Linked DNA regions of Homo sapiens. The protein of the gene in region 1 purifies or fractionates together with the protein of each later gene. This does not show direct contact. Each region holds a gene or a part of one and is shown in the gene's direction. Other genes may lie near its edges. The genes, in order: SDHAF2, NOL8, SH3BGRL, CTNNA2, CORO2A and ABCA2.

What was found.
Region 2: the proteins of SDHAF2 (region 1) and NOL8 purify together in Homo sapiens (affinity purification with mass spectrometry; one large-scale study listed by BioGRID and IntAct). This does not show direct contact.
Region 3: the proteins of SDHAF2 (region 1) and SH3BGRL fractionate together in Homo sapiens (co-fractionation; one large-scale study listed by BioGRID). This does not show direct contact.
Region 4: the proteins of SDHAF2 (region 1) and CTNNA2 purify together in Homo sapiens (affinity purification with mass spectrometry; one large-scale study listed by BioGRID and IntAct). This does not show direct contact.
Region 5: the proteins of SDHAF2 (region 1) and CORO2A purify together in Homo sapiens (affinity purification with mass spectrometry; one large-scale study listed by BioGRID and IntAct). This does not show direct contact.
Region 6: the proteins of SDHAF2 (region 1) and ABCA2 purify together in Homo sapiens (affinity purification with mass spectrometry; one large-scale study listed by BioGRID and IntAct). This does not show direct contact.

The regions. Positions count from the first base shown.
Region 1 is NC_000011.10:61,436,624-61,440,123, forward strand, and holds part of SDHAF2 (succinate dehydrogenase assembly factor 2, mitochondrial), read left to right. Parts: intron 1-1,001; coding exon 1,002-1,225; intron 1,226-1,380; coding exon 1,381-1,490; intron 1,491-3,500.
Region 2 is NC_000009.12:92,304,851-92,308,350, reverse strand, and holds part of NOL8 (nucleolar protein 8), read left to right. Parts: intron 1-1,326; coding exon 1,327-1,465; intron 1,466-2,520; coding exon 2,521-2,598; coding exon of another isoform or gene 2,599-2,602; exon of another isoform or gene 2,603-2,603; intron 2,604-3,500. UniProt on the Homo sapiens protein: Plays an essential role in the survival of diffuse-type gastric cancer cells. Acts as a nucleolar anchoring protein for DDX47. May be involved in regulation of gene expression at the post-transcriptional level or in ribosome biogenesis in cancer cells.
Region 3 is NC_000023.11:81,208,602-81,212,101, forward strand, and holds part of SH3BGRL (adapter SH3BGRL), read left to right. Parts: intron 1-3,500. UniProt on the Homo sapiens protein: Appears to function as an adapter protein that bridges proteins together or proteins with mRNAs. May function as a ubiquitin ligase-substrate adapter.
Region 4 is NC_000002.12:79,519,551-79,523,050, forward strand, and holds part of CTNNA2 (catenin alpha-2), read left to right. Parts: intron 1-3,500. UniProt on the Homo sapiens protein: May function as a linker between cadherin adhesion receptors and the cytoskeleton to regulate cell-cell adhesion and differentiation in the nervous system. Required for proper regulation of cortical neuronal migration and neurite growth.
Region 5 is NC_000009.12:98,126,638-98,130,137, reverse strand, and holds part of CORO2A (coronin-2A), read left to right. Parts: intron 1-247; coding exon 248-344; intron 345-1,418; coding exon 1,419-1,531; intron 1,532-1,877; coding exon 1,878-1,968; intron 1,969-3,314; coding exon 3,315-3,500.
Region 6 is NC_000009.12:137,018,238-137,021,737, reverse strand, and holds part of ABCA2 (ATP-binding cassette sub-family A member 2), read left to right. Parts: intron 1-127; coding exon 128-346; intron 347-676; coding exon 677-1,044; intron 1,045-1,242; coding exon 1,243-1,402; intron 1,403-2,431; coding exon 2,432-2,560; intron 2,561-2,667; coding exon 2,668-2,835; intron 2,836-2,922; coding exon 2,923-3,019; intron 3,020-3,386; coding exon 3,387-3,500. UniProt on the Homo sapiens protein: Probable lipid transporter that modulates cholesterol sequestration in the late endosome/lysosome by regulating the intracellular sphingolipid metabolism, in turn participates in cholesterol homeostasis.

The DNA.
Region 1 (3,500 bases):
TCATGATCATGCTTGAGCAGGGAGGGAAGAGACTATGGCAAATGAGTGCTACAAATTTTTCTGCTGGATTCGATGCAGCTGGTTTTGTGCTCACCTGGGGAGCAGGAGCCTCTTACTGGTTTCTGGATTTCTCACAGGGAATTGGTTTGTTTGTTGCTGTTGGCTCAGTGTCTCCATCGGGGAAGGAGGATCTGGGGTTTCCTACTCCACCATCTTCACCTCTTGCTGAGGTCACCACCTTGACATCATATCTTGATAAGTTGTCAACTTCTCTGGATTGGGAGCCTTTGGGGGATTAGGGATCATGCTGTCTCTGTGTGCTCAGGATTTGACACAGGTGAGTGAGTAGAGTATAAACCACACTGTAAGAATTTTAAGGGAGTGCAAAGGAAGGAAAAATTATTTCTGCTGGGATAGTTTCTGGAAAGGCACTGGTTAGGGACACATTTGCAGTTAGGACTGTGTTTTAATTCTAATTGCAGTTACTATTTGGATGATTTTGGGTGAGTTATTGAACCTTCCTGAGCCTCTGTTTCCTTGGCTATAAAGTGGGGACAATATCAGCATAATTTCTTTTCTTTTTTCAGGGGGATAGGGTCCGTTGCCCAGGCTGGAATGCAGTGGTACGATCACAGCTCACTGCAGCGTTGACCTTCCCAGGCTCAGATGATCTTCCCACTTCAGCCTCCTGAGTAGCTGGGACCACAGGCACCATGGTGGGACTACCCCACTATGCCTGGCTAATTTTTGTATTTTTGGTAGAGACAGGGTCTCGCTATGTTGCTCAGGCTGGTCTCGAACTCCTGAACTCAAGTAATCATGCTCGCGTTGACCTCCCAAAGTGCTGGGATTACAGGTGTGCGCCACCACGCCTGGCCAGCAGTGTAATTTCCTCATGACTAAATGTGATTGAATGCATTCAGCACCTAGTAAGCATTGAGTAAATGATAGCGATGATAGTCGTCATTATTGTAAAGATGTTTGTGGTTTGTTCATTTCAGATGCTTGCTCTGTCAAGGCACAGCCTATTGTCTCCTTTGCTCAGTGTGACATCATTCAGACGCTTCTACAGAGGTGACAGCCCAACAGATTCCCAAAAGGACATGATTGAAATCCCTTTGCCTCCATGGCAGGAGAGAACTGATGAATCCATAGAAACCAAAAGAGCCCGCCTGCTCTATGAGAGCAGAAAGAGGGGAATGTTGGAAAACTGCATTCTTCTTAGGTATGGGACTAGGAGTCTTTTTTTTTAAATCGGGCAGCTTCCTGAGCCAGAGTAGGTTCAGAGAGACTCCCAGGAGTAGGAGTCTTGGTGTCACTTCTCTTTTATTAGACACAGCCTTCTCAACCTCTTTTTCTTTTTTTCTTTCTTGTTTTTAGTCTTTTTGCTAAAGAACATCTGCAGCACATGACAGAAAAGCAGCTGAACCTCTATGACCGCCTGATTAACGAGCCTAGTAATGACTGGGATATTTACTACTGGGCCACAGGTACTGGGTATGATAAGCAGCATAATGTGAAAATAGGACAGTTTAGGCTGATTTGAGTCTAGAATTGTATCCTAGATAATTTTTTTCTTTCTTTTTTTTTTTTGAGACTGAGTTTCACTCTCGTTGCCCAGGCTGGAGTGCAATGGCATGATCTCGGCTCACTGCAACCTCTACCTTCCAGGTTCAAGCGATTCTCCAGCCTCAGCCTCCTGAGTACCTGGGATTACAGGCATGTGTCACCACACCCGGGTAATTTTATATTTTTAATAGAGACAGGGTTTCTCTGTGTTGGTCAGGCTAGTCTCGAACTCCTGACCTCAGGTGATCCGCCCGCCTCGGCCTCCCAAAATCCTGGGATTACAGGCATGAGCCACTGTGCCTGGCTTATAATTTTTTTCTTTTATTCATGAAGTAGACACTCAACCCAAACACTGTTCAAATTTTTGTTAAGTGTACAAAATTTATCAGTTAAAGTTCTTTATTTGCGAGACAGAGTGGAAACTTGTTTGTCTCACTTAAGCAAAAAGGAATTTAGTGGAAGGGTATATGAAGCTCACAGTATCAAAGGTTGAAGAAGAACCACTCTGGGAATGGAGTGGAATCAGACAACTAAGTCTGCATAGCCAAAGCTCCTCAATAGTTTCATTCTGGCCGGCCGCAGTGGCTCATGCCTCTAATCTGAGCACTTTGGGAGGCTGAGGCGGATGGATCGCTTGAGGTTAGGAGCTTGAGAGCAGCCTGGCCAACACAGCGAAACCTCATCTCTCCAAAAATTCAAAAATTAGCCGAACATGGTGGCGGACAACTGCAGTCTCAGCTACTTGGGAGGCTGAGGCAAGAGAATCGCTTGAGCCTGGGAGACAGAGATTGCAGTGAGCTGAGATTGCACCACTGCACTCCATCCTGGGCAAAAGAGTGAGACTATGTCTCAAAAAAAAAAAAGTTTCATTCAGGCACTACCTTTATGAGGAATGAATTCTAACTGTGTATAGTTAGGATTAACTTTGGCTATGAGTAAAAAAACATCCAAAACAGTAATGGCTTAAACAAGGTAGAACTGTCTTTCTCATGACAGAAGTCCAGAGGAAGGCACACTCCAGAGCTCATAGAGGGGCTTCAAAAAGTCATGGGTCCAGGTCCCCCCTACTTGCTGCTCTTTCATCCTAGCATGTGTTTTCTACTTCTTGATCCAGGACAGCCATATTTCAGCCCGGAAAAAGTGTGTGGAAGTGCATACCCCTCCTTTGTAGATCCCGCTCAGGAAATTATCCAGCATACTTCCACTTATTTGCCATTGGCCACAGCTTAGTTACTTGGCTACGTCTAACCATAAGGAAAAATAATATAGTCTATTCCATCTGCCCAGCTGTGTTGGAGATTCTGTTATCGATGAAAACTGGATATTAGGGGACGTGTCATTCATTCTGCCACACTCCGGGACTGCTGTTTTTGTGTCTCCACTCAATATTTGTATCAGAAAGTAGCAGCCATTGTCTATGGGTTCCAGGTATGAAGAGTGATAAGACAGAGTCTGGAGCCTTATACAATCACTGGAAAGCCAACAAAGTCCAAATATTTACTCTCCAACCCTTTACAGAACAAGTTTGCCCTGACTTAGCATAATGCATTTGAGATGCGTATCCTTGTTGTTACTTGTATCAATAGTTCATTCTTTTGTGTTGAGTAATATTCCATTGTGTGGATGTACCATGGTCTGTTCATCTTTTGACCAGCTGAGGGACATTAGGATTATTTCCAGCTTTAGGTGATTATAAATGAAGCCACTGTAAACATTTGCATACAGATTTTGTGAACATAGGTTTTAGTTTTTCTTGAGTGAATACTCAGGAGAAGGATTTGCTGGGTCATGTGGTAAGTGTATATGTTTAACTTTATAATAGGGCCAGGTGTGGTAGCTCATGCCTGTAATTTCAGCATGAGATCACATGCTCCTCCTCTGGGAAGCCGAGGCAGGTGGATCACTTGAGGCCAGGAGTTCGAGACCAGCCT
Region 2 (3,500 bases), on another chromosome or scaffold:
TCACTGTGTTCCTCAGGCTGGAGTGCAGTGGCACAGTCATAGCTTACTGTAACCTCAAACTCAGTCTCTCTAGTAGCTAGGACTACAGGCATGTGCCACCATGTCCAGCTAATTTTTGTATTTTCATAGAGACAGGGTCTCGCTGTGTTGCCTAGGCGGGTCTCAAACTCCTGGCCTCAAGTGATCCTCCTGCCTCAGCTTCCCAAAGTGCTGAGATTATAGGCATGGAACCACTGCACCAGACCCCTTCCCAAATTTTGAGGCACAACGTTTTGTCTCAAGTAAGCAGCACAGCCAGCCTATATCACCTTGAGCCTTTTTCAGCATTATAATCTACTTCCCTAATGCTTATTAGATTAAAATTTAAATTGATGTTTTTGATAGTCAAAAGTTGTTGAAATTAGCAGTTTCAACCTAATGCAGTGTAAACTTTTTGTACTTTATTATTTCAATATATGTGTTCGTTTTGTTTCCAACACCTAGCATGCTTTCCTACCACCTCTAGGGATTCAACTCTATCTTTCCTACCTCATAACTTTACCTAGTTTATAAAGCATCTTTTGATTCAGTTAAACACTATCTCAACTTCCTTTGAACCCTTAGAAACTTTGGGGGCATCCCTGTAGAGTACTTAAATTAGCATTTTATTCTAGTTTCTGTTAGTTGGTTATTTATATCCTGCAGTAAGTTGAAAGAGTCATACAGGCTTAGACTACTTTTGTATTTCTGTAATCCAAACTAGCTGTTTAACTTTATTCTGTGATATTTTGTCTGTTTGTAGTAGTTGAGGATAGTAGCTTGTAAAAGTCCATGATGCCTTAGTATGTGTAGGGCATATGGTTTTTTTCCCATAATACTTGTTATTGAATCAAAGACTGAAACAACTATCCACTAATATCTTATATTGTCAGATATACCATTACCATTTTTCACTCTTTATCATTTTTAGATTTACGTAATTTAGATTATGTTTAGAATGTTAAAAAAATCAAAGAGTCTATAATCACTGTAGTTATTAGTATCTTGCTCTATTACATTTGTCGATCTTTACCTTAAAAGTTTTAGACTTGCTACTGAAAGCCATTAAATTCAGACTTTCATAATTAGGAACAGAAGTAGGACTTTTCATTGTCTGGTCACGCAGACTTTCTGAGTTTGCTATGACTGAGGGTCTTTGGTTATGGAGGTTAGTGAAATGAGGTTAAAGTTTCTTCTTCCTGTCTTAATGGATTTTGAACATGTTTAGGTACTTGGTAAATATTTGATGATTGAGACTTCTCAGGCTGTGTTTTCCAAGAGAGTATTAATTATCCCTTTTCCTCAAAGAGGTAAATGAAAAGAAAACTGCTGAGGAAGAAGAGCTTGCTGAAGAAAAAAAGAAAGCCCTGAATGTTGTACAAAGTGTTTTGCAAATCAACTTAAGCAATTCTACAAACAGAGGATCAGTAGCTGCTAAGAAATTTAAGTATGTTTTATGTTCCATCCCATTCTACCATATCATCCTTTGCCATAAATGTCTTCTTGAACTCAATTTAAAACTAGGTCTCTTTTAATGGCCTGGGGAGGCAGCTGGCAATATGTATCAGACCCTTAAAAATATACTTGCCTTTGACCCAGTGATTCACTTCAAGGAACTAATCTTAAATTATTTCTGTATTTATACACTTAGATGTCATAGCAGCATCGCTTTCATTAGTGAAACAAATGGGAAACAGTTTAAATAGTAACTGTAAAAGTATTTATATAAACGTAACTGTTATGGAAATTTTCAGGCATGAAATTTAGAGAGACTAATGAAAGCCCTGTATACCATCATTACCTGTACACCAGGTAATGAAAGCCCTGTACACCATCACCTAGCTTTTACAGTCACCAACATGTGACCAGTGTTCTCTTCTATACCTTTATCCAACCCCTACTTTACACAATGAAATGTTTTATGCAAATCCCAGATAGTATATCATTTTATCTGTATGTATTTTAGTATGTTTAAAATCATTTTAAAAGCTAAAAAAATCCAGGAAATCTCAAAAGTAGGTAGTTTAAAATATTTTTTCGGCTGGGCATGGTGGCTCACACCTGTGATCCTAGCACTTTGGGAGGCTAAGGTGGGCGGATCACCTGAGATCAGGAGTTGGAGAGCAGCCTGGCCAACATGGTGAAACCCCGTCTCTACTAAAAATATAAAAATTAGCCGGGCATGGTGGCACATGCCTGTAATCCCAGCTACTTGGGAGGCTGAGGCAGGAGAATCGCTTGAACTTGGGAGGCGGAGGTTGCAGTGAGCCAAGATCACGCCATTGCACTCCAGCCTGGGCAACACAGCGAGACTCTGTCTCCAAGAAAAATCTATGTATATGTTATTTCTAGTAAGATCCTAGTTATCTTATCTGATGTTATATGGCTTCTTCTTGCTGCAAAATTAGAATCTTCCTAGTGCTGAATTATAATTTGCTACTTACTTTTTGTATTAGTGTTCTGTTTTTATCTCTTCCAACCTCCCTTCCTTTTTTTACATAGGGACATCATACATTATGATCCAACGAAGCAAGACCATGCCACTTACGAAAGAAAAAGAGATGATAAGCCAAAAGAAAGGTAAGTAGAGCTACTTCTTTTAGCAATAGGATCATGTAAATTAATCTCATTTCAGACAATTAAAAATGTAGGTAGGAACCAATATCCTACTCATTGGTCCCACTGTATTAAGATTGGTGGGGTAGGGGTAGTGCAGGTAGAGTTAGAAAGGAATTATTGATGTGGTGGAGGAGGTCTTACCTTTTAACAGAGGAATCTATAAATGATATGTACTCCTATCATTTATACCTTTTATTTGTATAAATGATGCCTTTTATTTGTACTAGTTTCTTGTGTCTTCTGTAGCTACCACAAACTTAGTTACTTAAAATCACAAAAATTATTTCTTTACAGTTCTGGAACCTAGAAGTCCCAAATTAAGATAGTGAACAGGTTATGTTCCTTCTAGAGGTTCAGGGAAACAAAGCTGTTTTATGCCTCTCCTAGTTTCTAGTGACTGCCACCAATCCTTTGGTGTTCCTTGGCTTGAGACTACATTACTCCCATTTCTGCCTCTATCTTCACATGGCCTCTTCTTTTCTGTCTCTCCTCTTTGTGCCTCTTATAAGGACACTTGTGATAGCATTCAGGGCCCACTTGGATAATCCTGGATGGGCTCCTCATCCTAGGACCCTTAACTTAATATCTCTGCAAGACCCCTTATCTAAATAATGTTAACATTCACAGGTTTCAGGAATTAGGACATGGACATAGCTTTTGGGGGGCAACCATTCAACCATCTAGTGTGGTAGGAGCTTCTGTTTCCTATAGATGTGCAGTCAGTTGGATAAACATGGCAAATATATGGAGCAACCAGTAGCAGCTTGGTTTAAATCCTTCATTTTCCAACTGCTAATAGCCACGAAAATCACAAAAGGCAGTGTGGTATCCTGAATTGAATCTTGAAACAACAGGACAATTTG
Region 3 (3,500 bases), on another chromosome or scaffold:
ATCTGTTTGCTTTCAGATCTACTTTGCGGCCCACTAGGAGGCCTTTTAAACCCAGTCTTTAATTACTTTCTTCAATCCAGACCAAGGTTAAACAAAAGTACATTTAGAGAGACGAGGCGGTTCATTTATGATGACTGTTTTCATTAATATGAGAGACAAACCTGACCTTTTACACTTGGGCAGCAGAGAAGAATTTTAAGCAAGGAGATTTTTTTCTAGCCCAGGTCTTGCCTGTTGGTTTTATTAGGTTTGCTTGAAATCTTGCAGATTGCCAGAACATCAGGCAAAAAATTCAAATATAAGTTTAAAAATATCATAACAAATTCAAAGACTGTATATTTAAGTGTTCAATGATGCTAGGTTTTTTGTTGTTGTATTGCCCTTTCGTTAGCATAACTAAGTTTTTTTTTTTTTTTTTTTTTTTAAGACGGAGTCTCACTCTGTCACCCAGGCTGTGGTGTGATGGCATGATCTTGGCTCACTGCAATCTCTGCCTCCCAGGCTCAAGCGATCTTCCTGCTTCAACCTCTCAAGTAGCTGGGACCACAGACATGCACCACCAGGCCCAGATAACTTTTGTATTTTTGGTAGAGACAGGTTTTCACCACGTTGCCCAGGCTGGTCACAAACTCTTCAGCTAAAGTGATCCGCCCTCCTCGACCTTCCAAAGTGCTGGGATTACACGCGTGAGCCACCATGCTCAGCTGCTAAGATTTGACTTTAGTAATAGTAAAGACAACACTTATTTATGCATTGTATATGTCAGGCAAGGTGCCCAGGGCTTTACCTACATTATTTTACTTAATTTATCTTTACAATAATATTTTAACATAGTAATAACTACTATTAGATTCATTTTACCTAATTGGAGGGGGTATCTCTAAGATCCAGAAACATAGGTACATTGGTCAAGACTGAAGAGCTAGAAATGACAGGGCTGTGATCAGAACTCTGGTTGTTCGGACTTCAGAACCCACTCCTAAACACTGTGTTATTTACACATCCTCTGTTTATAGGTATTGAATAGAAATTGTCAATACTACATAAAAATCCTGTTATATGATTTTGAAATACAATTGCCATTCAAGAGGGGATGATGTCTAAGTAGGCAAATGTGTTCTCATTCATAACCCGTACTCGAGAGTGAGATGAGAGTTGGCACTGGTGGGCAGGCTGGGTGTAGGGAGGATAGTAGCACCATGTTCTTTTAAAATGTGGTTCTTTTTTTAAAATCAAATGAATTCATCGAGGGCACACTTAAAAATAATATTTGTCTGTACTTTCTTATGCTGGCCTGTGTTACATACTGAATTTTTATGACTGATTCTCTTGCATGTTATGTGGCTATAGACCAACATAATTAAAAGGTGGTTTCTATGATTCTGTAAATCTAAATTAACCAGGAAGGCAGTACTGCTATAACTTGTAAACTCTGGTTTTAGACTCTAGTCCTTGATTTCTGTCCCTTTGGCTTAGTCCTTTTTGGAAATGAGACCCTATCCTAGAGTTAGGGTCTAGCCAAGCCTTTCTGCTTGGGGGATTTCCAAAAATGAGTCAAGACAAATAAAATTTCACCTTTCAAACACCAGAGAATATTCATCTTAGGTAACATTTACTACATGAGAAAATTTTCTGTTTCACCATCACCTTTCAGCCAGTTGTTTCATTATAAGTGCAGCATGTTTTTCTGTTAAAATTATCTGTAAATATATATTTAATAGTAGTTGTATGATATTGGAGACCGTTCTCTTCAGTATGTTATATCAAATTTGATTTAGAAGGAAGACAAGCATATATAATTACTTAATTTATTAAACATATGATCAATCATCTTACTTTAATTTCTCATGCAAATTGTCAGCTTTAGTGGGTAATAATATTAAGAGCTATAATTCATTGAGTCAGGCACACCGGTAAGAACTTTACATGTATTGTTTCATTTTTCTGACAATTCAATGAAGCTAGTACTCTTATTATCTCTGTTTTTAAGAAGAGAGGCTCAGAGAACTAGCCAGGTCACAGAGCTAGTAAAGTACCCCCCAGGTTTGTCTGATTCCAGGGCCCATGATCTGAAGCCCTATGCTATTCTTCCCACTTGATGATATTCACTAATTACCCACTCTGAATGCAGCTCTGAAACTGATTTACAAGTCGTTGTAATACTTCTTTTCTGATGAACTTGAAAAACCATGAAAAATACTTCTTAATTAACTGGTCTATAGCAATACGTGGTCTATAGAAATACTAAGGATAATTCTGGTGGTCTGTTACATCAAGTGGAGAACTTGAGTTTATCAGAGGAGACAATCAAAGTTATAAGAGCTCAGCCTATACTATTAGTTAGAATGCAGAACATGTACCTTTATCTCAATTTAAGAAAATCATTTTATTGCAATCTAATGAAAAGTAGATAAGATGAATTGTTTTTTGAAGGGATTTTAAAGCTTTTTTAGCTGTAAGGGTGAGATATGTTTTATTGGCTATTGCCTGTGTGATTTGAGTAGGTCATAAAACTTTCTTTGCCTCTCATCATTCTCACAAGCTGAATATGAGTAACTTAAAATGAAGAGTATCATGAAAGAAAGCTTCTAGAAGTGTGTGATGGTTAATACTGAGTGTCAACTTGATTGGATTGAGGGATACAAAGTATTAATCCTGGGTACTGTCTGTGTGGGTGTTGCCAAAAGAGATTAACATTTGAGGCCGGGCGCGGTGGCTCACGCCTGTAATCTCAGCACTTTGTGGGGGCCGAGGCGGGCGGATCACGAGGTCAGGAGATCAAGACCATCCTGGCTAACAGGGTGAAACCCCGTCTCTACTGAAAATACAAAAAAAATTAGCCGGGCGTGGTGGCGGGCGCCTGTAGTCCCAGCTACTCGGGAGGCTGAGGCAGGAGAATGGTGTGAACCCGGGAGGCGGAGCTTGCAGTGATCCGAGATCGTGCCACTGCACTCCAGCCTGGGCTACAGAGCGAGACTCCGTCTCAAAAAAAAAAAAAGTCAGTGAGTTGGGGAAGGCAGATCCACCCTAAATCTGCTGGGCACAATCTAATCAGCTTCCAGCAAATATAAAGCAGGTAGAAAAACGTGAAAAAGAGAGACAGGCCTAGCCTCCCACTTTACATGTTTCTCCCGTGCTGGACGCTTCCTGCCTTTGAACGTCGGACTTCAAGTTCTTCAGTTTTGGGACTTGGACTGGCTCTCCTTGATCCTCAGCTTGCAGAAAGCCTATTGTGGAACCTTGTGATCATGTAAGTTAATACTTAATAAACTCCATATATATATATGTATATACACACATATATCCTACTACTTCTGCCCCTCTAAGAGAACCCTAATACAAAGTGTTGTTGGAAATTTATTACTAAAAATAATGAAATCTGATCTCAGACTTTCAGAAAAAACATAATTGGTCTTGTGATTCAGGTAAATAATTTTAACTTCTCAAAGGATTCAGTAGTTGGGGTGAAATATTTTCAGTGAATTTCTACTTGAAACAAG
Region 4 (3,500 bases), on another chromosome or scaffold:
ATATCTAGCTATAAAATTCTATAATTCTACATGTGTTTTTTTCTTAAAATTTCAAGGCAAATGATTTGTTTTCATTGTGTTCCATTTGTTTTTTCTTTTGAAACATAAACTTCTGCTGCATAAGGAAAAAAAAACTTCACCTTCAGTGGCATATGCTTTCCCTTTCCCAATAAAATTGCAAATTTAGCTTCACAGTCTCTGGGCAAACTGTGAGGGACTAAGTAACCTGTCTTTTCTTATCTCTCCATCCTTCCCTCTCTTTCATTTTGAAACTTCTTCCTACATTGAAGGTACAAGTCAGTTGCTACCACTATTTAGGGACTCTCCCAGTGTGTGGTTGGCTTGTTTCGGCCATGCCAATGTTTGTGAAAGACTATATGGCATTTATGCATTTAGAATGAAGTAATGTTTATTTAAGAAATTATATATGCTTTAAGGTTAATATTTCTGCCTCAGGCATAGCAAAGCCTTGCTTATCCCCCTAAATTCTATTTCAGAGGACCTGGTGGTCACCAGTCTTCCTACCAATCCAGCTCCAAATTCCCATTAAAATTATTTTAGTAAAATTTTGGGCATATGTTTTATACAATAAAGTGTACCCATTTTAAGTGAATACTTTGTTGTGGATTGACAAACACACCTGTGTAACCAGCAGTGCGATCAAGATACAGAATATATCTGTTACCCTAAAATCTTCTCTTCCGACTGATCTGCTCTCTGTCACTATAGATTCTTTTTTCCTATTCTAGAAATTGATATAGGTTGAATCACAGAATATGTGCTCATTTTTATATTCCTTTTTGCATTGAGCATAATGTTTGTGGGATCAATCTATGATTTTGAGTACATAAACTTCTAGAAGAAAATATAGGAGATAATCTGTGATGTTGGATTAGGCAAAGATCCCTTAGGACCCAAAAAGCACTAATCATAAAATTTAAAAGAAAATATGCATTAGACTTTATCAAAGTTAAAGAAAGAAGTTTTGCTCTTCAAAAGACAAAAGGTTTGTTAGAACTACATGTCTCTCTCTGTATGTTTGACAAAGGACTTTATCTAGACTATGTATAGAACTCTTGCAACTCAGTAAGAAGACAGGCAATCCATCTAAAAAATGAACAAAATATGTGCTGAGATATTTCACACAAGAAAATATACAAATATCTAATGAGCACATGATAACTCTATAATTCACCGAAATAATTAAATTTAAAACCACAGTGTGATACCACTATCCAAACACTAAAATGACTAAGTTGTAAAGACTGGCAATACCAAGTTTTGGAGAGGATGTGAAGCAACTGTGATACTCATACATTGCTGGTGGGAATGTAATACTTTGGGAAACAGTTTGGCAGTTTCTCTTAATGTTAAAAATACTCTTACCATACGATCCAGAAACTCCACTCCCAGGTGAAATGAAAACATATGTACAAGGACTTTTGCATGAAAATTAATAACAGCATACTCATAATAGCTTCAAACTAAAAACAACCAAAATACCTGTCAAATTCCTATTTGAAAGTTACCCCTTTGAGATAGAAAACAAAGCTGCTGATATATATATATATATATATATATATATATATATATATATATATATATATATATATATATAAATTTTAAGGTGCGCTATTTAATATATGTTACCTGGCAGCAGAGGAAGGGGAATACATTGGAAAAGATTTCTAAAATGACAAGAAATGCAGAGGATGGGAGACATGGGCTTAATTTCTGCTTTCTACATTTCTCTTGTCTGTGCTCAGTCTGCATGTTGACTGCTTCCTCAGCCGGTGCTATGATCACTTCTTTAGTTCCTAGCACACCGTCATGCAGCAGCAGCGTCTCTTCCTGCAGAATGAGGAGGTTTTTGCCAAAAGCCCTCCTGCAGACTTCTCTCTTATGTCACTGGCCAGCACTGAATCACATGGACATTCCCAGTCTAGTCAATGGCAAGGGGAATGGGAATACCATGAATGATAGGCGCTTAGACTAAATCAGGATTTACTGGCTGGGACTATGTATGGGATTAGCCTTCACTGGGTGGAGGAGGTTAGGGGACTGATGAACAGAGTAGCAATTCTTTTAATGAGGAAGAGGTAAATGATTGTTGGGTAAGTAAGCAGCAGTGTTTGTTACAATTTGATATAGAGGCCTGCCTTGTTCTCAGGTTTTGGCAAGAGGTTGAAGCAAAAAGCTGAGATTGTGGTCACAACTTTTTATTGTGGGAGAGTGTATGCAGAAACAGGTGACAGAGGGCAACGTGGCACAAGAAGGAGAAAATTTAGATTCTAGCCCACAGCATGAACTGGAGGGGCAGGGAATCTGGACCCAAGGGAACAATTTAAAGTGGGCAAGCATACAAATAGTGACAAGCAAAGCCAAGCACATTGGGGCCCATGGAGTTGGGACAGGAAGCAAAAGTCAGTGCTGGCAGTAGTCTGGAATCCAGGCAGGCAAATTCGATTGCAGTTTGCCCATCTGTGAAATCAGGACCTCAGGCAAGAAGATTTTCATGTTTTGCTTGTTAAGGCAGAAGCCAAAACAGTAATTATTTTCTACTTTTTTTCCTAAGGTGTTCTCAACCACTCTAGATTCTGTCTTAAGGATAGGAGCCGCACCTTCCATTTTTCTAGTATTCTCCTGTGTCATTGCTGGGCCCACAGTAATTCCTTCATAAATGCTTGTTGATTCAACTAAGTCTCTGAACTCGCTCCATCTTCAAACAGATCCTCAGATTTCTGGTCATATGTAACAGCCATTTACAAATGCTTTCCTACAAGTTATCGAAACCACTGTTTTGAGGGGCACGGTCCTGGAGCCATACGTGAGTAAGACACAGTGCCTTGTCTCATAAGTTGACAATCTAGTAGGGGCTATAAGATGAATACCTGAACAGTTTAATACCAGACAGAATGATCGAGTGTGTCCTGCAGTGTGGTACTGATGCCACAGTGGCGTGGGGCAAAAATCCAGGCTGACACAGAATCAGCAACTTTGCTTCAGCAATGGATGGGAATAAGAGTATGGAGGAGGGGGTGACCTTGTATTAGTACTTTCAGATTCAGTCCTGTCTTGGTCTGGGAACTGGGACAGGGCTGGCCTGCCAGGGAGATGAGATCAATGAGCACAGCAGTGGGAGAGGTGGAGAAATCACATTCAGGAGAACTAAAGCTGGGACACTGATAACTACTCGGTAGGTAGCTGAAAAGTGAGACTAGAGTGAAGGGGAGAGGCTGGGAGTAGAGAAATATTTTGGCATTATCTATACAGAGGTATCTCAAGAATCCAATAACAGAAGATACATTGTTTCAAAAAGAACATGTTTTGTCTTTTGCACTTACAGTAATAAATGCCCATTGTAGAACATCTAGAAAATAACAAGAAAAAGAGTCTGGAAAATAAAAATCACTGCAGTCCAACTATTCAGTGAACATTTGGTGAATTTCTTTCCCCCCGTGAGTATATCTGAGTTATATAGTGAGGGTGTTTTCAAGTAC
Region 5 (3,500 bases), on another chromosome or scaffold:
TCCAGCCTGGGCAATAAAGTGAGACCCTGTCTCAAAAAAATAAGATAAAATCTAAAATAAAATGAATATCCCCTCATCACCCTCCTGCCTTGATGACAGGGCCCCCAGTTTCCTGGTGTTCCCTTGAGTGAGATGGGTTTGCCGATCATCAAAAAAAGCCAGGTCTTTGCTGCATGGCTGGGTTGCTGATGAGCTGATGAGCTCCAGCTCTGAATCTCACCCTCCTCTTCCTTCTCCTCCTCCTCAGGGAGATGGCAACATCCGCTACTACGAGGTGAGCGCCGACAAGCCTCACCTGAGCTACCTGACTGAGTACCGCTCCTATAACCCACAGAAGGGGATCGGTAAGTGAGGGACACTGAAGTTCATGCCTGTAATCCCAGCACTTCGGGAGGCCGAGGTGGGAGAATCAGGGTCAGGGCTTCAGTGCGGGGTCTGGGGAGACAGGGATGAGTCAGATGGGAGGAGAGACAGCATAGCAACACTCTGACTTGGTGGGGGCTGTACTTGACGTGTGCAACAGCACAAAGGAGGAAGTCAGGGAAGGCTTCTCAGAGGAGGCAACATTGGAGGAACTGAAAGAGGAAGCAGAGCCCAGCAGGGGAGAGAGGGATGTGTTCTAGGTCAAGGTTAAGCAGTTACCACAAGAGCAGAGATGGAAAGGGCTGACCTAGAAGAGCCTCTAGGAAGCAGTCCTCAGTTCCTTTCTAAGTGTGCTTGAGGATTAAAAACACAGCTATATTTCTGTAATCTACAAGAAACCCACTTTAAACATAAAGACATGGCTAGATTAAAAGTAAGGGACTGGAGAAAGATGCACCCTGCTAACCCTACTCAAAAGGAATCTGGAGCGGTTTGATTAAGAGCATTTGGGTCACAGGAGCTGTGGGGATGGAGATGGGGAACCTTAAGCAGAGCAAACTGCCTATAAAAGTTCAGCTAATCCAGCACTTTGGGAGGCCAAAGCTGGAGGATCACTTGAGCCTAGGAATTCGAGCCTAGCCTGGGCAACAAAGTGAGACTCCTGTCTCTACAAATAAATAAAAAAATTGAGGTGCATACCTGTGGTCCCAGCTACTTGGGACGCTAAGGCAGGAGGATCGCTTGAGCCCAGGAGTGTGAGACTGCGGTGAGCTATGATTGTGCCACTGCACTCCAGCCTGGGCAACAGAGTGAGACCTTGTGTCAAAAAGAAAAAAATTCAGCTAAAATAATTTAAATCTTTGAAGGTGAAGAGTCTGATTAATTCAACTCCATTTCCCAACATAGGGCCCAGCCCAGTGTCGGTATTTGTCCCTGAGCTGTTTTCTGGGAGGAGACTGGTCTCTGTTCAGGTCCAGGTGTGCAGCCTGGCTTTGGCCCTAACACTGTGGCCCCAGCCTAGCCAGAACCTCTTGGCCCTCCCTGTCTGCCTTCAGGTGTCATGCCAAAGAGAGGACTCGACGTGTCCTCCTGCGAGATCTTCCGCTTCTACAAGCTGATCACAACCAAAAGCCTCATCGAGCCCATCTCCATGATTGTGCCCCGGCGGGTAAGGGCAGTCGGGACCGCATGGGAGGCAGGTGGGGAACCTGTCCTGGAGAAGACAGACCCAGGGCTGTCGGGCACCAGAGCCTGGAGCCCACGTTCATGGGGCAGCCACAGAGCGGCCTTTCTCACAGCCAGTGTGACATCAGTGGGCGTCAGGAGTCCTGGGTCTCGGTCCACCTCTGTTCTTGAGCTGCTGCGTGACCTCGGGCAAGTCCCTTTGTTCTCTGGGCCTCAGTTTCCTCAATTCAGCAGGGGTTGGTGAGAGCCTGGACTCCCAGGTCTAAGGGCCTTTCCCATCTGAGCAGCCTACCCTACCACCCTCCTCACTGTCTGGATTTCTCCTGCAGTCAGAATCCTACCAAGAGGACATATACCCTCCAACAGCAGGGGCCCAGCCCTCCCTGACGGCCCAGGAGTGGCTCAGCGGGATGAATCGAGGTGAGGAAGGCAGAGAAGAGGCCCAGGCAAATGTGACAGGAACATGGCGTGCCCAGTGGCCCCAAGCAATTGAGAGGGGTTGGGCCTGGATTTTTCTTCTCTCATGACCTCAGAAGCCATGCCCTTGACCTTCAGTCCCCAGTGGGTAGCATGGTCACATACAGGTCCAGAAAGTCAGGGGGCTTGACCCAAGAGCTCAGAAAACTCCAACTCAAGGGACTTTGCCCCACGGAAAGCTTCTTTACACTCTGGGGCTATGTGGGGTGCCTGGACCACCTCAGCCAGACTCCCTGTCCCTGTTCCCCACCCCTACCTCTGCAATTCTTTTTTTTTTTTTTTTTTTTTTTTTTTTGAGACAGAGTCTCGCTTTGTTGCCCAGGCTGGAGTGCAGTGGTACAATCTCAGCTCACTGCAACCTCCACCCCACCCCCAGGTTCAAGTGATTCTCATGCCTCAGCCTCCTGAGTAGCTGGGACTACAGGCACGTGCCACCATGCCCAGCTAATTTTTCGTATTTTTAGTAGAGATGGGGGTTTTGCCATGTTGGCCAGGCTGGTCTCAAACTCTTGACCTCAAGTGATCCACCTGCCTCGGCCTCCCGAAGTGCTGGGATTACAGGTGCGAGCCACTGGGCCTGGCCTTTTGCAATTCTTCTTGACCCAAGAAGCCCTCCAGGCAGCAACCCCCACCCAGGTCCCTCTGCCCACTCTGCCTGTCCTGAGCCACTCTCCCGCTCCTGCCAACACGGGGGCCAGCCCAGCAGAAGCAGTCACCCCAGCTGCTCCCTCTCCCTTCCACCCCCACAAACTTCCTTCACCCCCACCCCAGTGGCTGAGCGGGCCTCCTGGTGTACTGGAAGAGCCTCTGCCTTGGGGGGCAGCGGACCAGGGCCGAGTCCTAGTTTTGGATAACCTTAAGTAGGTTTTGCTCCCTGGGCCTCAGTTTCCTCATCTGTAGCCATGATGCCAGCCTCCCCTGCTTTCTGGAGGTGGTGAGAGAACTAATGAACTTGGTAGATGGTGGGGTGCAGTGTGGGTGGGACTGTCCTTACAAAGCAAGGGCAAGGTCTCATGTGAGTTTGAAGTGTTTGGGGGCTGCTTCAGTGCACGCACCGTGCTGTTCCTACAAACCAAGCTTCACTCTGAGGGTGGCACACGTGGGTATTTGTATCTGTTAGCCCTGCTCTGTGGGTTTGGGCCTGTCCACAGGTAGCTGTATTTCCCACACATGTTGCATGGGTCTGCATGGCTCTGAGTGTCTCTGCATGCCTGCCTGTGTCATTGGTGCCCCATATGCCCATCTTCCCGTGGGCACCCCGTCCTCACATGGCTCTGCTTCCCTTCCAGACCCAATCCTGGTGTCCCTTAGGCCTGGCTCTGAGCTGCTGAGACCCCACCCACTGCCTGCAGAGAGACCTATCTTCAATTCCATGGCCCCAGCCTCACCCCGGCTCTTGAATCAGACAGAAAAGCTGGCTGCAGAAGATGGCTGGAGGTCTTCCTCCCTGTTGGAGGAGAAGATGCCAAGGTGGG
Region 6 (3,500 bases), on another chromosome or scaffold:
GAGGCATGTCGTGGGACCCAGGCAGCCCCAGAGCCAGCCAGTGGGTGGGGCAGGGTGAGGCCTGAGGCCCTAGTGGTTGGGGACAAAGTCCTTGCCGTGGCTCCACGGACCCCTGTGCCCATCCCAGGAGCTGCTGCTGGCTCCTGCCCTCCTGGAGCAGCTCACCTGCACGCCGGGCTCGGGGGAGCTGGGCCGGATCCTCACTGTGCCTGAGAGTCAGAAGGGAGCCCTGCAGGGCTACCGGGATGCTGTCTGCAGTGGGCAGGCTGCTGCGCGTGCCAGGCGCTTCTCTGGGCTGTCTGCTGAGCTCCGGAACCAGCTGGACGTGGCCAAGGTCTCCCAGCAGGTGAGGCCCTGCCTGCCCACTGCCCGCTGCGCTGCTTGCTGCCTGAGTTGAAGGAGGGGCTGGGACCGCTTGGAGAGCTCAGGGCTCCTGGGCCCAGGCTGTGCGTGGGATGCTGCCTGTGGGTGGGTATCCAATGGCACCATGGCTGGTGCCCCACTCCTGCTCACCATCCCAGCTCCTGTCCTGGGCTCCCGTTACCCAGGCTGCAGACTCCCTCCCAGCACCCCTAGCTTGTGTCTCCCTGCTGCTGTCTCCCTGCTCCACTCCTGACCTATCACCCACCTGCAGTCCATCTCACCCCGCACTGCCCACGTGCCTGTTTCCCCTCAGCTGGGCCTGGATGCCCCCAACGGCTCGGACTCCTCGCCACAGGCGCCACCCCCACGGAGGCTGCAGGCGCTTCTGGGGGACCTGCTGGATGCCCAGAAGGTTCTGCAGGATGTGGATGTCCTGTCGGCCCTGGCCCTGCTACTGCCCCAGGGTGCCTGCACTGGCCGGACCCCCGGACCCCCAGCCAGTGGTGCGGGTGGGGCGGCCAATGGCACTGGGGCAGGGGCAGTCATGGGCCCCAACGCCACCGCTGAGGAGGGCGCACCCTCTGCTGCAGCACTGGCCACCCCGGACACGCTGCAGGGCCAGTGCTCAGCCTTCGTACAGCTCTGGGCCGGCCTGCAGCCCATCTTGTGTGGCAACAACCGGTAGGTGGGCGGCAGGGGAATGGGGGTGAGGAGGACAGCCAGGGGCAGGGCGTGAGCCCTGAATCTAGGCTCTGGCTCTGGAGGTCTCATTTGGCGCCCTGCCCTGTGCCCCGAAGTCCTGCCCCATCCCGATGCCCCTCCCACTCTCGCGGCCCTGCCCCCTAACGGCCTGGCCCGGCCCCCTGTCCCCTACCCCAGCACCATTGAACCCGAGGCGCTGCGGCGGGGCAACATGAGCTCCCTGGGCTTCACGAGCAAGGAGCAGCGGAACCTGGGCCTCCTCGTGCACCTCATGACCAGCAACCCCAAAATCCTGTACGCGCCTGCGGGCTCTGAGGTCGACCGCGTCATCCTCAAGGTGCACGGGTCTGGGACGCTCCATGTTTGACAGGCAGAGTGGGAGGGGGTCTCTGCAGGCCTGGGACCCCTGGGCAGAGGGTGTCGGCAGAATTGACACGGGAGGGGTACGGGGTGCAGCTTCGGATGGGACACAGGCTCTGCAGGTGGGGGACCAGGGGGTCGCTTTTCCTTTCGGGAGCTCCAGGGGCTGCTGTGGGAAGGCACTGGAGAGTCTGCTCTGGCAGGGTCCTCCGGCTGGGGGTGGCCGGTCCAGGGCAGTGCTGGTGGAGGAGGGGTGTGTCCAGAGACCTTCCAGAGTGTCTCGTGGGCGGGCAGCTGGGCAGTTTGGGTTCTGGGTGAGGGGTCCTGTCTGGAACAAGCAGAGGCCAGGGCTGGACATTGGCCTGGGAGGGGAGGGCCTGTGGACGAGGCCAATCCTGGGTGTAGAGGGGGTCCCTAGGATGAGGGTGGGACAGATGAGGGTGGAGCATTGGGTGCTTAAGGGACACATGGAGACAGGTCCAGCAAAGGAGCTGGTGGGCACAGCTGGGCAGTTGGGGGTCCGGAGGCCGTGCTGCCCTGGGAGTGGAGGGCAAAGCAGGTTTCACCTGAGCGCCGCAGAAAGGAGTGGAGAGCCCGGGCGTGGGACTCACGCTTGAAATCCCAGCACTTTGGGAAGCCATGGTGGGAGGATCGCTTGAGCTCAGGAGTTTGAGACAAGCCCGAGCAACATAGCGGAAGCCCGTCTCTACCAAAAATACAAAATTAGCCAGGCGTGGTGGTGGGCACCTGTAATCCCAGCTACTTGGAGGGCTGAGGCGGGAGGATCCCTTGAGCCTGGGAGGTGGAGGCTGCAGTGAGCTGGGACTGCACCACTGCACTCCAGCGTGGGTGACTGAGACCCTGTCTCAGGAAAAAAAAAAAAAAAAAGGTGGGGAGGGTTAGTTGTTGGCAATGGACCAGCCACTGGGGAGGTGAGTGGGGTGAGAGCCCCCAAGTCGGTGGGGGTCCGTCCAGAAACTCCATGCCCCTGCCTCACCCCCTGCAGGCCAACGAGACTTTTGCTTTTGTGGGCAACGTGACTCACTATGCCCAGGTCTGGCTCAACATCTCGGCGGAGATCCGCAGCTTCCTGGAGCAGGGCAGGCTGCAGCAACACCTGCGCTGGCTGCAGCAGGTGCCAAGGGTGCCCGCGAGGGAGGCGGCTGTGGGTGGTGTGGGGAGCCCCTCTCTGCCCGGCTCGGCAGGCGCAGGTCCCCCTCTGAGCCGCCCCTCCACCCCAAGTATGTAGCAGAGCTGCGGCTGCACCCCGAGGCACTGAACCTGTCACTGGATGAGCTGCCGCCGGCCCTGAGACAGGACAACTTCTCGCTGCCCAGTGGCATGGCCCTCCTGCAGCAGCTGGATACCATTGACAACGCGGCCTGCGGCTGGATCCAGTTCATGTCCAAGGTGAGCGGTGGGGCCTCCGAGCCAACCCACGACACCCCCTGCCTCGCACATGCCCACGGCGGGCTCCAGCGATGCCCCTCCCGCTAGGTGAGCGTGGACATCTTCAAGGGCTTCCCCGACGAGGAGAGCATTGTCAACTACACCCTCAACCAGGCCTACCAGGACAACGTCACTGTTTTTGCCAGTGAGCTGCCCTCCCCGCCCCGCCCCAGCCCCCCACAGACCTCTTCCTCCCCAGCCCAGCCCCACCCGTCCCCCTGTGCCCTCCCACTCCTTGGCCGCGCCCTGGCCTTCCCCCCTCACCCGCCACTTCCCCTCCCCACCCCTGCCCCTTCCAAACGGCCCCAACCCACAACCCGCCCCCTCCCTGCACCTCCCCACTTCTGCCCACCTTTCCCCTGGGGCCCCCACCCCAGCCCTGTCCCACCTTTCCCTGGACCCTCCTGTCCCCGCCCCCACACCTTGGCCCCGCCCCCGTGCCTTGCTTTCCCCCCCACCACGCCTTGGTCCCGCCCCTGCATCTTGGCCCCGCCCCAACCTCCCGGCCCCAGGTGTGATCTTCCAGACCCGGAAGGACGGCTCGCTCCCGCCTCACGTGCACTACAAGATCCGCCAGAACTCCAGCTTCACCGAGAAAACCAACGAGATCCGCCGCGCCTACTGGC